Regions from separate parts of the Homo sapiens genome. Here region 1 is linked to region 2. Evidence: fine-mapped expression QTL. A gene starts in region 2. The other region holds a variant in brackets. All regions are shown on one strand. Distances are between the middles of the regions.

Region 1 (8,287 bases), 50 kb before region 2:
GGTAGAGAAAAGAACTGCAAGACCCAAGGGTTAGGAATAAACTAGAACCTTACTCTAAGTGATTGGACAAGTTGAAAAATAACACCAAATCATTATCAGCTATTAAAAAAAAATGAGGGTTTGAGGTAAAGTGAAGTTCGATTTGTCAACAGGAAGCTGTGGGCTCTGCACCTCTATTTATATAAACATTTGCTTTTTCCATCTTGGGTTCTGCCCAGAATTTGTCGTCTGACTGCTGCTTCTGGGTCTGCTTGACTGGTTTTTAGAGAAAAAAAGAAAGAAAGAAAGAAAGAAAGAAAACAAAACTGTGGCCACCTGTTCCTCTCCTTACCGCAGTCTTAACAAGTCACTTTCCCTGATGTTTGGTTGGTGAAAATGCTCAAAGATACAAGGGCTTCCGTTTTTATCAGAGTATTGCTTTATTAAGTAAGGCCTCCCTGAGCTGACAAAGCTACAAGGACAGTCCTGCCTCTCCTCCACTGTGCTCCTGATGTCTTTCTGTTTTACCCTAAGTTTCCAGATCCCCCAGGACCCCTTCCCCACTTCTCAAATTCCCTTTGAATTTGGAATTTGACAGTTTCCATCTTTTAGCTTCCTGGCTCCCCAACCCTGGTGTCAGCCTGTTGTCACTCTCTCATCTGGCTATCCCCTGGTCTGGTGCCATCTTTGTTCCCACTTCTTTTAGGATTGTTTTCCTTCTTCATTGTGTTACAGCTGCTTCAGTACAAAAGGAAGAGGGATCTTAGAGGTTGTTTGTGCCTTCTCACCAGGTGTAAAGTGGTTAGTTAAACATCTAACTTTGGCCACAAGTACCCTGAAGCAGAGAAGGGAGGAGCTTGTGTCTAGCAACATATACTGCTGTATATGTCATCAAAGTAAGACTCAGAAATTGGGAAACCAGCTGCGGTTTGCACTCTCTGCCATGAGTCAAAACAATACTGAGTGTGCATAGAACTGTATTTAGTGAGTAGAAGACACACTCAAATTTCCAGAATGTGTTCATTTGAGGAGAAAGTAGAATTTTCTTGAATCGTAAGCATGGAATATGGAAAAAGCCTCAGAGTAGAATCAACTCAATTAGAGAAGGGAAAATAAAAGTGAATCTTTATGAATAGGTAGATGAGGCTGCTATCTATTCAGGATACCAGGAGGGCATTCAATATCTACTGATATTTTTACCAAATTCTTTAATTCTAACATTAAAGATCCATTATTTTGGTTTAAAAAATGGCTTTTCATTGAAAGCCATTGCTTAGCAAGGTTGTCATTTGGGCTCACCAGGAAAAAAAATATATTAACACCTTAATGAGTAAAAACTTTCTTCTGAATCTTCTTTTATTTTTTGAGACGGAATTTCACTGTTGTTGCCCAGGCTGGAGTGCAGTGGCATGATCTTGGCTCATTGCAACCTCCACCTCCCTGATTCAAGCGATTCTCTTGCCTCAGCCTCCCGAGTAGCTGGGATTACAGGCACCCGCCACCATGCCTGGGTAATTTTTTTGTATCTTTCTTAGAGACAGGGTTTTATCATGTTGGCCAGGCTGGTCTCAAACTCCTGACCTCAGGTGATCCGCCCACCTCAGCCTCCAAAAGTGCTGGGATTACAGGCGTGAGCCACCACGCCCGGCTGATACACATTTTTTAAAGTGGAATAAAAGTTCATAAATTCAGGCCTTTTTCGTAAACATAGAAGAGAAAAAGAACCAGAACAAAAGACATTTTATTTTGAGAAATAAATTGGAAAAAAATATTTTAAAATGTTTAATTTGCAATATACATAATACTGGAATTGAAATGCTGTCTGATGGAAATGTTGCAATGTGGAGTAGGAGGGTCAAGTTCGTGAAGATATTCTTAAAATTAATCTTGGAAACTCTGTGCCTATGAGGTTTCTCTAAAGTGGCTAAAATATGCATTTAATATGTTGTCTAAATGAGTACATTTAATTCTAGAGACTGTAAGGAGTAGAGATTATATGCTTTGGGGCTTTTTGTAGCATTTTTTTAAAATCAGTTGTACAGATCCCATTAAACGAAATTGTTTCTTAACAGCAAGAATCTGATCATTTAACTAGTTTTCTCAGCAATATAAAAGGAATACAACCTCCACTGTCATATATAACTTGTTGTCTCCTAGCTCCTATTTGAATTCCATTGGCTTTTATAGAAAGTTATTGAGTTAGTCAGACAGAAGGATTCATGATATATAATTTGTCATTTGTTATAATGGGATTTTCTTCTATTCCATTGTGGACTGCTACCCTCACCTAGGATAAAGCAGATATGGTTGCTATGAATTAGACTGTATCTAAGCTTCAAGAAATATGAATAATGCATTTAAATCCAGAGAATCATAGAATTAAAGGAAATCTTAGAACTAAGAATATATATAATATATATATATATTTCTTAAGATGGACTTTTGCTTTTGTCACCCAGGCTGGAGTGCAATGGCGCCATCTCGGCTCACTGCAACCTCTGCCTCCCAGGTTCAATTGATTCTCCTGCCTCAGCCTCCCGAGTAGCTGGGATTACAGGCACGTGCCACCACGCCCAGCTAATTTTTGTATTTTTAGTAGAGATGGGGTTTCACCATGTTGGCCAGGCTCGTCTCAAATTTCTGACCTCAAGTGATCCACCCGCCTCAGCTTCCCAAAGTGCTCAGATTACAGGCATGAGCCACTGCGCCCAGCAGTACTAAGATAAATTTAACCTTCTCATTTTAAAGATGAGGAAATTAAACCAGGACCTAATGAAGGAAAATGGCTTATCCAAGGCTACGTGGTTACTGCTAGAGCCAGGATAAGAATGTGGGTTGTCTGAATATTGTGTTTCTTTCACTCTTTCGTATTAACTATTAGGCAAACTTTCTGTCTGCCTATTAAAATTCAAGTCTGAATGCCCTTCTTAGGCCCCAATCAGGATATCCAAAAGCCACTTGCACAATAATTCGACCGTGCACTTGTTAAGTTGTGAAGATGAACGAAGTAGCAACTCAAGGAAACGTCAACCAATGGTATGATTTCACATTAAGTTGTCTAATTTGCTTTGTGGTGGTGGGTTCATCCCGGTACTACCCATAAACGAATCAGTAAATGAGACTTAGTTTCCAACCTTACTTCCCGACTAGACAACTGCATGAAAAATTGGATAGCGAATTATGAGTCCAAGTTCTATAGCTGGCATAGTCCTCATGCTTTAGCCCCAGCCTCTGAGCTTAGCAGAAGACATTTTGGGTCCTTATATATTGCTAGTAGGATTGTATAATTCTTGACTGTGTTGCAGAATCTTACAGGACTACAAAACTTACCATGATGTGTCTTATAAGGAAGACTTGCCAGGCAAATTTTCGGGCAAGCCAGCAAAATAGTTAAAGTAAGAGTAAAGAGGAACACGTGAATGATGGGGAGTTGGTCTAGGAAAATATTGTGAGGAAAATAAATGAAATTCTATGGTTAGCCCAAATAGACAAAGATAGCTTCTTCAACCCTAAGATCTATATCAGACAGATTCAATAGTAAAGATTATTAGCCTAAAGTTTAGTCTCCCTTGAAATTGTACATAGAATGTTTGTATATAAGCCATATAGTCATCATCTATTCACTGTGTCTATGATATTGAGAAGCAGCAAAATTATGCAATAATATAGACTTTGTATTTTAAGTGCTAGAAAATGAGATAAATGTTATCAGTTTGGGTGAAAAAGTAGAGAGTAGGGGTAAAAGCTGG[A/G]CATTGCAAAAGGATTGGTTTAAGAAATACTGTCTAAGGGTTAGCTGTCAATGGTTGGAGAAGAAGGAGATCCTCCTTCCTCTCACCCATACATTTTTTCTTCTTTCCTCTTTTTCAATGATCACAGACCATTGGGTCTCTGCAAATCCACATTTTCACAGGGAGGAAGTCGGAAGTAATTGGAGCGACGGAGTCTCCTAGGGGGCAGACCAGCCATCTGACGGCAAAGCTCATCTAGAAGAGAAGCAGAACATCATGGGAAGAGAATGCAGAAGATAACAAAGGCTCTTGTTTTAAGGGATAGAGAAGACTTTTCAGTGTGGTGTAGTGAAAAGGTTGGAGAGAAAAAGATCCGGGTTTTAACCAGCTCTGCCACTTACTTTAGTTATTTGCCACTTCCTAGAAAGTTTCTTAAATTTTATAAACCTCACTATCCCTTTCTGTAAAATGAGAATTAAAATACCTACCTCAACAGTATATTTCTGAGTATTAAAATGAAATCATGTATGCAAAGTACCTAGCACAGGTGAGCAGTAAATGTTAGTTTCCTTTATATATCCAGCTGCCAATTCTTCTAATCATGGATCTATTAAATAGAAAAATGAGATCCAATCATTCAGTATACATTTACGTGCTTACTATGGGCAAACAGCTAACTTTAGGAAGTCCCTTGAGATACTTGAAAGTGCCTAGAGTCCCAAATACCCATCCTCAATCTCAAGGTGCTTCCCTTGCAGGTGGCTTGCACAAAGCCAATGGGGGCACACAGCAAGTTTCCTTCTGCGAAGTTAACTACAGCTCTTACTCAGGAACTCAGCACAAAGCGGGCTGCTGAGTCAGAAATGGCTTTGTCTGTGGTGTTTTCACCAACCACAGCCATCGTTCGGGGCTGGCCATGGGGAAGGTGAGAGTATCTTTGTTTCCACCATGTATGGTCTACAACCACACATTTTGGGCCCTCGTAATTGCCCCATAACATCTTTCTACCTTCTTCTACCTGAAATGTCACAGTAAGAAATGTTCATTGTTCTTGGAATTGGTGAACTATTTATAACATAGCTGATTTCTAAATGTCCCATCTATTTTTTATTTATAGGCCCTATCCAAACCTTACTGTCTCCAAATTAGTGCATGTGCGTGTGTATGTTTTATTTTTAGTTATGAACATGGCTGCGGACTAGCAGAGTCTATTATCTGTAATGGCTGACTTGAAATTTTCCCTAGAACCCCAGTGAATGATCTTTAAAATAGCCAGAGTGTCAGAAAGCTCTCTAAGTAGGAGACACTGTGGGGTTACAATCTAGTAGGACAGGGATCTAGGGGTACTTTTCTTAGGGTTATGTTTGTATATCAAGCATACTGCTTTATGTAGATTGTTTATTTGAGATAACTTCCAGCAGGAGCTGATGGACTCTAAGGGGGTAGCCTGAAGCCCTCCTCTAGTACCAGACTTTGGATATAGTAATATCATGTCCCTATCTACCCTTCTCATAACTGCTTCTCTCCATTAAACATCCAGACATCATCTTACCTTTCATAGCTTCGTGTTCCTTACAGACAAGACGAGAGCAGATCTCCTTGTTGACGATGTACATACGTCGTAAACTGCAGACGTCCCAGTGTCATAGGCAAGGAAGGAGATGGAAGAAAGCCTTGAGAGGAGAACTCACCTGGGTCTGGGATGCCTCTTCAACTCTCATATTCCCCACTTTCCCTATCTGCTTTTCCCCAACTGTATTTTCTTAAGTATTTCAGACTTTTGCCCCCCAACTGGAAAATAGGGGAGGGAATGGTATTAATTACTCTTCTGTTTTTTAAATTTTATTTCAATAGTTTTTGGTGTACAGGTGGTTTTTGGTTACATGGATAAGTTCTTTAGTGGTGATTTCTGAGATTTGGGTGCACCCGTCACCCAAGCAGTGTACACCGTACCCAATGTGTAGCCTTTATCCCTCATTCCTCTCCCACTCTTTCCCCTGAGTCCCCAAAGTCCATTATATCATTCTTATGTTTTTGCCTCCTCATAGCTTAGCTCCCACTTATAAGCGAGAACATACAATATTTGGTTTTTCATTGTTTAGTTACTTCATTTAGAATAATGACCTCCAGCTCCATCCAAGTTGTTGCAAAGGCCATTGTTTTAGTTATTCTTCTTAGTGACACTTTGCACACTCTACCTAAAGTCAGGCTTAATATTCCTCCCCACTATTTTCTACCTTAGAGCTGGGCCATTCTCTTCAGTCTCCTTCTATCAGGTAATAAATTGAGCATGCCAGTATTTCCCTCATGACCCTTCTTCCTCCAGCGCCCACCTTCATTTCCCTTCTAAGTTCTATTACTCTGCCTGTTCTTTGTACACTTCAGCCCATACTCCAGGTTCTAGTTGGTACATTCAGCAATAACTAGGAGGGTTGTGCTAAAAACTTTGGCCCCATCAAAGTTTGCAATTCCATAGTGGGTGCTCATTAAATAGTTATCAACACAGAAACACTACCATGGAAGATGCTTTTTGGGCATTCTGGGATCCCTTACCTGGTGAAGCATAACTGATGAATGCATTGTTTAACCGGCCGATGCACAGAGTAGAGCCTTGTGCAGGTAAATTTCTCATCCCAGCACTCTGAGGAAGCCCAATACAAAAAAATAAGGAGGTCCAAATAGAAGCAGCATAAATGAAGGATTGAAGGAATTGGGAAGGATAGATAGAGTAGGAAAAAAATACAGAGTAATCTCTACAGAGAATCATTATAAATTGGGCTACATCCTTTCCGTCCACCAAAAACACAGCAAGAGGGAATTGACTAAATGAAGTTTTGGCGCTTCCCTACTTGGAAGTAGAAGTGGATAAAATAATCTCTGAGAGCACTTCTAGGAATAAAGTCTTTCTAGAATTGTCCGTTATGAAATATAAAATAGGCTGGGCACGGTGGCTCATGCTTGTAATTCCAGCACTTTGCGGGGACGAGGCGGGCAGATCACCTGAAGTCAGGAGTTCGAGACCAGCCTGGCCAACAAGGTAAAACCCCGTCTCTACTGAAAATACAAAAATTAGCCAGGAGTGGTGGCAGTTGCCTGTAATCTCAGCTACTCGGGAGGCTGAGGCGGGAGAATCACTTCAACCTGGGAGGCGGAGGTTGCAGTGAGCCAAGATCACGCCACTGCACTCCAGCCTGGGTGACAGAGTGAGACTCCATCTCAGAAAAATAAAATAAAATAAAACAAAATAGTAAAATAAAATAGAAATGCTGATAATCCCATTCTGAAAGAATCAGATTTCTTAGGCAGGTTGCTATTTCTCTGTTCCAGTAGTTTTCAACCCTAGCTATATATCAGAATTATCAGTACATTAGGAAATGCAATTTTAACCATGGCCTCCGTGGTAATATGGAGTCCTTGAAGTTAAATTGATTTCACTTCCCAATCCACTAACCACCACATAATGTGCAAGGGTACTTTAGGGAGAGGGCTATTTGGGGACCATGCAACATTTGTTCCATTCTTTCCCCTTGACTTTTATGACAGGTGCTCATTTTTTTAAAAAAAAGAGTAAGGGAGTGAAGAACACTAATACTCTTTGAGAAATAATTGGAAGTAAACTAGAAGATGTGCCAAGTACCCTCCAAAGAACAAGGAGGTAAGGAATCCACAGGAAGAAAAAAAGGCTTAAGAAGGCATGCAAGCAACAATCATACCTGCAGTGGTATTTTTTTCACTGAGGGAGGCTGAAAGGCAGAAATTTTATTCCACTGTTACCAATTCTAGAAGTTACTACTTCTGTAACTGCCACACTGCCTCACTTAGGACCTGCTTGGAGTGCCCATAAATAGGGAGCAAATGAATTAATAACTCTTAGCAACTTCTAAAAGAAAACCCTTATTGAGCTGATTTGCTCCACAAAATTGAAGACATTAGGAGGCAGGATGGGATTTTTTTCCTTTCTCCTTTCCTTTCTAAAGAGTTGAGAAATTCATTGTATTGTGAGTATCTCTGTATTGTTGACAAGAAGCAAATTTAGTAGGAACACAAGGCAAAGAGTTACATGCCCAGAGGAGCTTCTTCCTAGAGCTAAGCAGAGAAAAGATTATTATCCTGTACAAGCTCTTCCTTATAAGAGAAAATTTATTTTCTGTAGATTAGATACATCATCATAAATTCTCTTGATAGAAGCTGTTGGGTAAAGAATAATGAGGGTCAGCTGGGCACAATGGCTCACACCTGTAATCCCAGCACTTTGGGAGGCCAAGGCAGGTAGATTATTTGAGGTCAGGAGTTTGAGACCAGCCTGGCCAACATGGTGAAACCCCCTCTCTACTAAAAATACAAAACTTAGTTGGGTGTAGTGATGTGCACCTGTAATCCCAGCTACTCAGGAGGCTGAGGCAGGAGAATCACTTGAACCTGGGAGGCAGAGGCTGCAGTGAGCCAAGATCGTACCATTGCACTCCAGCCTAGGTGACAGAGGGAGACTCCATCTCAAAATAAATAAATAAATAAATAAATAAATAAATAAAGAATAATGAGAGTCATCCTAACCTAGGGGCAAATTTAACATGGGCCTT
Region 2 (8,335 bases):
TTCGAGGCCAGCCTGGCCAACATGGTGAAACCCCAAGTTTCTACTAAAAATACAAAAATTAGCTGGGCGCCTGTAATTCCAGCTAATCAGGAGGCTGAGGCAGGAGAATCACTTGAACCTGGGAGGTGGAGGTTGCAGTGAGCCAAGATCTCACCACTGCACTCCAGCCAGGGCAACAGAGCCAGACTCCGTCTCAAAAAACAAAACAAAAAACAATAAAAATAGAGACAGGCTCTCCCTGTGTTGCCCAGGCTGGTCTTGGACTCGTGTATTCAAGCGATCCTGTTGTCTCAGCCTCCCAAACTGCTGGGATTACAGGTGTGAGCCATCACACTCAACATCCTGTTGAATTTTTTTTCTTTTTTTTTTTTTTTTTGAGATGGAGTACCCATCTGTTGCTCAGGATGGAGTGCACTGGCCCAATGTTGGCTTGCTGCAACCTCCACCCCCAGGTTCAAAAATTCTCCTGCTTCAGCCTCCCCAGTAGCTGGGATTACAGGCAACTGCCACCACGCCCGGCTAATTTTTGTATTTTTAGTAGAGGCAGAGTTTCACCATGTGGGCCAGGCTGGTCTCGAACTCCTGACCTCAGGTGATCCACCTGCCTTGGCCTCCCAAAGTGCTGGGATTACAGGCATGAGCCACCCTGCCCGGTCCCTCCTGTTGATTCTCATGTGTCTAGGAATAAGAGCAAAAATCTGGAAGTGTTTTGGTGCAGGCAAAGGATGAACCCTAACTTCATCTCAAAGACATTACTTACCTATAGAGTTGGTCTTACACTCATAGGGATATGCAATAAATATAACTATTTGTATGATTATCACACATATCTAAACATTGTATAATTTCTCTTTGATTACTATTTGACTGTTTTGGTATCAGTTAGTCTTGAATAATAATAGCTAACATTCACTGAGACTTACTATGTTATGCATTACATTTGAGTTACCTCATTCATCCTTCTATCTTAATAAAGTGGTGCTAATATGATCTTCATTTTGCTGATGAGAAAACTGAGGTTTATGGAAGTTAAGCAACAATCTCATGCTGCTAGTAAATACAGCTAGGATTTCAAATCAGATTGATCTGACTCCAGACATGCTAGGTTACTTATAGTATGTCTTCCCAGGGGATTCAATTGCCGCACCGCCCCGCCCCCCCGCCCCGCCCCGCCCGGCCCCGACACCTCCGAACTTCCTGAAAAATATTAATTCACTGGTTAAAAATGTGTGGTGCATGATTATGTCAAGAAAAACTACTTAAAATATTTTTGAGCAGGTGTTGCTACCCAAAGGAGATGTGAGTCCACAGCCGCCTAAACATATCAACCATGAATTCTCAAAGATTATGACTGAATGTATGTACAGCCTTTCTGAACCTTGGGTTTCCAATATGGAAATGGTGTAAATAATTTTTGCCCCCTTATTACTTCATATAAAAAGTATGATGTATGAATTTGATCATTACTCACATAAACATTATCTTAACAATATCATGATAATGGTAATGTGTTTAAGCCTTATCATTGGCTTTTTTTAAATACCCTCCTGAGCTTTGTTTTACTCCCTATTAGCTTAAGTCAAAAGCAACGTTGTTACATACATGAGAATATCTTAGAATGTGTATGGCACATAGAAGCAATAAATTGAATAGCAACTTTTTTTTTTTTTTTTTTTGAGACAGAGTTTTGCTCTTGTTGCCCAGGCTGGAGTGCAATGGCACCATCTCGGCCTGAAACCTCCACCTCCCAGGTTCAAGCGATTCTCCTGCCTCAGCCTCCTGAGTAGCTGGGATTACAGGCGTGCGCTATCACGCCTGGCTAATTTTGTATTTTTAGTAGAGACAAGGTTTCTCTATGCTGGTCAGGCTGGTCCAAAACTCCCGACCTCAGGTGATTCGCCTGCCTCAGCCTCCCAAAGTGCTGGGATTACAGGCGTGAGCCACCGCGCCCTGCCCTGAATAACAACTTTTAAGGGCAAGTGGCAAGTGAGTTAATAGTCATACTTCCTATCCTCAGTTTCACCAGTACAACCCACTTTTTCTGGGGATGCAGTTACCACGAATTGGATTCCTTAAGAGTGGGACTGAAGGAATAGGTTAATTAAATATTATTATTGATCCTCTGTACATTTTTTTCCCTGTGTCAATTTCACTGTGTTTATTTTGTCAGATTTTCAGTGTTAGTATCTCTGTGCTCAAGCTTCCCTTGATCACAAAATGCTTCTCTTGGTCTTGGAGTTGAATATACTTTATGTCCCAGGGGGCTGAATATCAGAGTGGAAGTAAATAGCAACAATTTAGTTCTGTAGACCTTATCCCCTTTGTTCTCAAGATAGTGTATCTATCTTATAGGGCGTTTGTTCCTCTAAATTTTGTAAACCAACTAGACGCCTATCCTAGGTTACTCTCACTGACCTAACATTATAATAGCACTAAACACTTTGAACAGCACTTGATCTGTGTCAGCTGTTAAATATTATATACTTATTAACTCATTTACTCCTTATGACAACTCCATGAAGTAGGTGACTATTTTTATCCTCACTTTTACAGCTCAGCAGATAAAGATACAGAGAGGTTAAGTTACTGCAGAGGTTCACATAGGGAGTGGAACCATAAATCCAATCCGGGCAGTCTGGATCCAGAAGTTACCACCCTGGGTTATGCTACATCTTTTAAAGGACTCTCGAGACGCTGAAGGAAATTAGTCAAAAAATTTTTTAAAAGCAGAAAATGAAATTATATTGTCAATTGACTGGGAGAGGAGCAGTGAAAAGTTGTTGGCTGAGGTCACTGAGACAGGGCTGAGACCAGCAAGAAGGCAAACTGGTGAGCACATTACCGTACCTCACACCTGGTGTCTCTGGTGACTGAAGTTATTTGGAAGTGAATCTTCCATGTAAACCTGGGAGGTCGTCTGTAGCCCTTTTTTTTTCTCCTTAAGAAAATGTAATAGCGTAGTTGAACATTCATATTCTTAGCCTCCTTTGGGCTATACTTTTATTTTTTATACATAGTTTTAGAATTTACAAAATGCTCTTAAAATATCTCATTTCATTCTCACAACGACTCCGGACTGTACTCTTTTATCTTTTCACAACAAAGGCTCAGAGGAAGCGTAGCAACTAACTTGTCCAAGGTTTACGCCGGTTTCTAGGGGGCAGAGCTGGCGCTATCCACCCCGCCTGTATCTCCAAACCCGCTTCAGCCAGGAAATTTATCATGTGGTTTTAAATTTGCCTCTCAATATACAGAGGTACTGTCTTTACTCCAGTCCCGGATAAAGACCTTCTAGGTATGAATGATCTTTGTCTCCATATCTTTGCCTACCGGAGGGAGGAACCACCGTAAGCGGAGACTCCGGGCGGCGGCCGGCGGAAGGGCTGGGCGGGAGGCGTCGGGATGCCGGCAGGACCCTGCGCCCGAGGGGGTAGGGGGCTCGTGTCGGGGTTCCAGGCGCAGATTGATGGGGCCTAAGCAGGGAATGTGAGGGCGGGGAGGGCGTACAACGGAAGGGACTAATCTCGCGGTTTCGAGTTGGGAGCAAACCTCGCCCCCCACCCCCCCCATCCGTTTCCCTTTCTCAGTGAAGACGGTTTGGGGGCGGGTGGGGAGGCGCGTCCTCGGAGCGCCCTCGCGCTCCCTTTTCGCTCCCCGCGCGCGATCCATCGCCTCTCTTCCCCCGAGGCCAGCGATGGCTCGGGTGCGGGCGAGGAGCTGGGAGGGCGGCTCTCGACGCAGGTGTCAGATCCGCTCGGCAGTGCTCGGCGCGCTGGCCCGGCCCCCAGCTCCTCCGGCCGCCGCCCCCCGCCCGCCGCGCCGCGGCGCCAGGAGGGCGGGGCCGGGGCGCGCGCCGCTCCTCAGCAAGCGGGCGGGCGGCGTTCGGTCTGAGGGAGCGGGGCGGTCTCCGCCGGCGTCGCGCGCGCTGTGTGTGAGCGGGGTCGCGCGCGCGCGCGGCAGGCGAGTGAGGGAACGAGGAGCGGCCGGGTGTGAGTGTGTGGGAGTGAGAGTGTGTGGGAGTGGGGTGAGGGAGAAGCTGACGGGACGCGAGGCTGTGAGAAACTGGGCGAGTGTGCGAGGACGCCCGGCCAGCCTGCGGGAGCCGCAGTCGGCGGAGGAGAAAGGAGGCGGCTCCCGGTATCCCGACCCCCTCCCCCTCCTCTCCTTCCCCCACTTCCAGCCGCCCGGCGGCCCGCGCTTCCTCGAAGGCCCCAGCCCGGCTCAGTCGGCCGAGAGCGAGGGAGGAGCCCCCCGACCCAGGTGAGCGGTACGACCGCTGTTGCCCTCGGGTGTAGAGCAGTGAGGCGAAGGCGCGCCCTCCCGAGTGGGCGAGTTCAGCGGAATGGATCCCCCGATTAGCGGGGGCTGGGCCGGGGAGGGGACCGGCCCGAGCGCGCCCGGGGTCCGGGGCTAGTTGAGGCCGGTGGTCGCCGCTCCGCGGAGTCGGTGGGGAGCGAGGCGGGGCCCGGCCTTCGCGCGTGTGCCGGGAGGCGCCGGCCCGTGGCGTGTGCGTGCGACCGGGCGAGCCGTGTCGAGGGGGCGGCGACTTCGGGCGTGTAAGGAGTATGGTTTCCCCGCCGGCGAGGGGGTGTGGTAACCCCGGGAACGCCGGCTGGAGTCGGACCCGCGGGCTGCTGACCTGTCCTCGGGATTGCGGCGACACTCCCCCTCCCCCCCCTTCCCACAAATTCTATGGAGCGACCGCGGGAGGAGGATCACGTGGTGCGGTCCCGCAGCTACTGTATTCGATTCCACGTTTTCCTCCTTACGTGTAAATTTTAGAGAGTGTGACAGTCATTCCATCTTTTCCTTTGACAGTCTCTGAATGAGAAGGGGATGACCAAATAATTGCTTGTCCAGTTTTGATTCTTTAAAAATTTGAGCATGATGTAAATATTACACTACTTGCCCCTCACCCCCCCCCAAAAAAAACCCAAACCAGAGTGGTAATAATTTCAATCTCCCCTTATTAATATGTCCTTATCTCTGATCACACATTTGTTATTTCACTGTTTTATCCCATTTGTATTGGCGAATAGCGATGGGGTGGTAATTCTGTTCTGTGAGGGGTTATTGCACTAACCATGCTCAATGCAACTGCTATGTAAATTCTTTCAGTATGCTGTCATTTTCCCATTAGTTATATATATTGTTACCACATCTTTGTGGAGTTAGGTTCAACTCTAAATAGGTATAGAAAGTATATGGGCAGCCTACTATGCAGATTTTTTTTTGTGGGCTTGGTATGTTCATTATATTTATGGGTGTTCTTAATTATTAACTATAACCATTTAAATTGAAATGTTTTTAAATCTCATTTTTGTTACTTTCACAATATTGGGTACCTTAAAGGTCATTTCTTCTATTTTAAAAAATGATTTCTTAAAAGCAATTATGAGAATACTTTTAAGATATTCATTTGGAATAAAACACTCTCTGAAATTCCGGTCTCAGAGATTTAACATTTATTTCCTAAATTTTAGTATGCAACCCTCTAATTTTAAAAATAATCATAGTTAAATTTCTTTTCCAATGGTTACTGTTTTATTTGGTTAGTGTGTCAAAGGGGAGGAGGCCTATTTTGTCTTGAGGTAATCCTATTTTATTCTTTTCTATCTTGGTTAGTGCTGTTAATTTCCTTCTTTCATGTCATTGATTTAGTTGTTAGTTTGGCAACATGGCTGTTGATGTTTTTTATCTTTCTCTGTCTCCCTTTTTTCTCTCTTGTCTTCTCTTACCCCTACCAGGTGCTGGAGTCTGCTTGTCAGGGAGGGGGGCAGTCTGTGATTCTGAGAACAGAGCCAAGAAGGGGAACAGCAAATTCAGTCACAGACAATCCTCCACTCGGTCAAGAGCCACTTTTCTCTTCCTGCCTTGCCCCCCCGCAGGGGGTAAGGAACTGAGCGTTTAATCTTTAGCCGGTTGGCTACCAGCTAAAATTCTACTTATCTTAGTTTCTAGTGGATAGCTTTCTTATTTTGCCCATGTTTTCTTAGAATCCCTGTTTAATATACTTTTGTCAGTAGTAGTATCTAGGAGTAGCAGGGAGAGTGACAATAAATTAGCCCCTTCTTTTTTCCCTTGTCATTCAGGCCCCTTTTCCTCTCCAGAGGGAAATTACCAGTAAACTCTTCTAAATCTTCCACCCCTTCTCAGTCATACTGTGAAGAAACACACTAAAGTGGACATTATTTGACCAGTGAACACGAACCCAGCTTCAGGCATTGGTTTGTTGTGGCACATGGAGAAACATCTCTTTTAAAATATCTCCCAATTACCCTTTTCACAATTTGTATCCACCTAGGATTTGCTGCTGGGGTAAGTCACTAGATTTATTTCTCAAAGCTCCCCTCTCTATGAGCTGAAAGACTGACCAACCATGAACACTAGTAGGGGATGGGGAAAGGGGACAGAGCAGAGCCAGTTGTTCCACACTTTGGGAAGCAGGAGTAGCTTTTATCATCTTCCTCTGGGGAGCAGGCATAGAGACATAAACTGAGTGAAAATGGGTGGAGGAAGAACTTCTATACCCACGAACAACATGTGAAGAGAGAGAACCAAACATAAAGTAAGGAGGGTGAGTTTTATTGTATGTTGCTTGCTGACAACTGTTTTGGGGGCGCTTCAGTGATATACATTCATAGAAAGACTTTGTTTTATGGCAGATTAGTTTACAAAGAGTATTCTGCAAGTGGGATTAAGTCACAAGCAAATGAGAAAAGAGCCTCTAGAAATTGTAATTATGTGGCCTGGCGCAGTGGCTCACACCTGTAATCCCAGCACTTTGGGAGGATGAGGCAAGCTGATCACTTGAGGTCAGGAGTTTGAAACCAGCCTGGCCAACATGGCGAAACCCTGTCTCTGTGAAAAATATAAAAAGTAGCTGGGCATGGTGACGCACACCTGTAGTCACAGCTACTCAGGAGGCTGAGGCACAAGAATCGCTTGAACCTGGGAGGTGGAGGTTGCGGTGAGCCGAAATTTTATCACTGCACTCCAGCTTGGGCAACAGAGCAAGACTGTCTCAAAAAAAAAGAAAAAAGAAACTGTAATACGTTATTAGAATCTGAGGGAGGAGGAGACTGCGATAGTGAAAAAAGTATTATTTTTAAATGTTAGCTGTGCTGATATGTGCAGTTGTTTCAAGAGGTTGAGTAGGGAGATTACGTACAGATGTTGGAAATTGTCTCTTAATTGTCTCGGAATTTTCTGCTTGTCATATGAGGGATTGTTAAATAAGATAGTACCTCCAAAAGTATCTACGTAATACATTTTAGATTTATATGCCATATGTATCTGTGTACATGTTAGGTTTGTAGAAAAGTACTGACTTTCTGGCTTCATGGTAACTAATGCCATGGTGTTATTTTTAATGTTTTCTTTTTCAGTGTTTTTTTTTTCCCCTCTCAAAATTGGCTTGGAGGACAAAAGCCACAGAGCTAGCCAGCTCTACTCCCCTAGAGGCTGGTCTGCATGGAACCCATCTGTTTATATCTTTTTTCTTCTTTCTGAAATTATGTTTTTGTTTTTTTTCTAACTTTGTTAACAAAGCTAATCATTTCTGGATCAGTTATATGACCGTTATGGGAAGTAAGCACAGGCCTGATCTCTTTTTTTTTTTTTTTTTAAGAGAACCCGAAAACATTAATTAGGAATTTTGGATAGCTACATTTAGATTTTACAGGGGCCAGGTGCGGTGGCTCACACCTGTAATCCCAGCACTTTGGGAGGCTGAGGCAGGCGGATCACTTGAGGTCAGGAGTTTGAGACCAGCCTGGCCAAAATGGCAAAACCCCATCTCTACTAAAAATACAAAAATTAGCCAGGTGTGGTGGTGTGCGTCTGTAATCTCAGCTACTCGGGGGGGCTGAGGCAGGAGAATTGCATTAACCCTGGAGGCAGAGGTTGCAGTGAGCTTAGACTGTACCACTGCACTCAAGTCTGGGTCAAAGAGCAAGACTCCATCTCAATAAAAAAAAAAAAAATAGATCTTATGGGGACACCCATTTGCCTGGTATTTAATATTAAAATAGCTATGATTTTTTGATACTCTCTTACAATTTGATATAGCAGATTATTAAAATATGTTCTGTTCCATAACTTGTCAGTGTTACATGTCAGGTTATGCATTTCCCACTGGGGATAACATCAGGGAATAAAATGGTTGTCGGTTCTTTCTTCATGGAGTTTACAGACTAATTTTGGTAATCTCTGTATTTTTTATCTGTCTATCAGTTATCCGAGCAGTGTCTGAAGGAGTCTACTGGATTCTTAGGAAATGCGTACTAATTTGTGAATTGATGAGCTGGCAAAACAAAAATCTGTTTAAACATTT

Evidence for each region.
Region 1: its variant is fine-mapped to the expression of RIMKLB in whole blood (TOPMed, PIP 0.94).

What each region holds. Positions count from the first base shown.
Region 1 is chr12:8,644,242-8,652,528 of GRCh38, forward strand. It overlaps MFAP5 (microfibril associated protein 5), which reads right to left. Exons shown (of 10, transcript NM_003480.4): 7 at 7,421-7,450; 8 at 6,261-6,348; 9 at 5,260-5,333; 10 at 1,702-3,962. The coding sequence ends at 3,850. Among named protein-coding and RNA genes, the nearest start is that of MFAP5, 14 kb to the right of the region's middle. RefSeq lists enhancers at 478-1,000, 642-701, 3,636-4,835. The variant A/G (reference allele first, on the strand shown) is at 3,729.
Region 2 is chr12:8,694,038-8,702,372 of GRCh38, forward strand. It overlaps RIMKLB (ribosomal modification protein rimK like family member B), which reads left to right and starts at 3,954. Exons shown (of 6, transcript NM_001297776.2): 1 at 3,954-4,260. RefSeq lists silencers at 3,759-3,858, 4,389-4,558 and an enhancer at 3,783-4,749.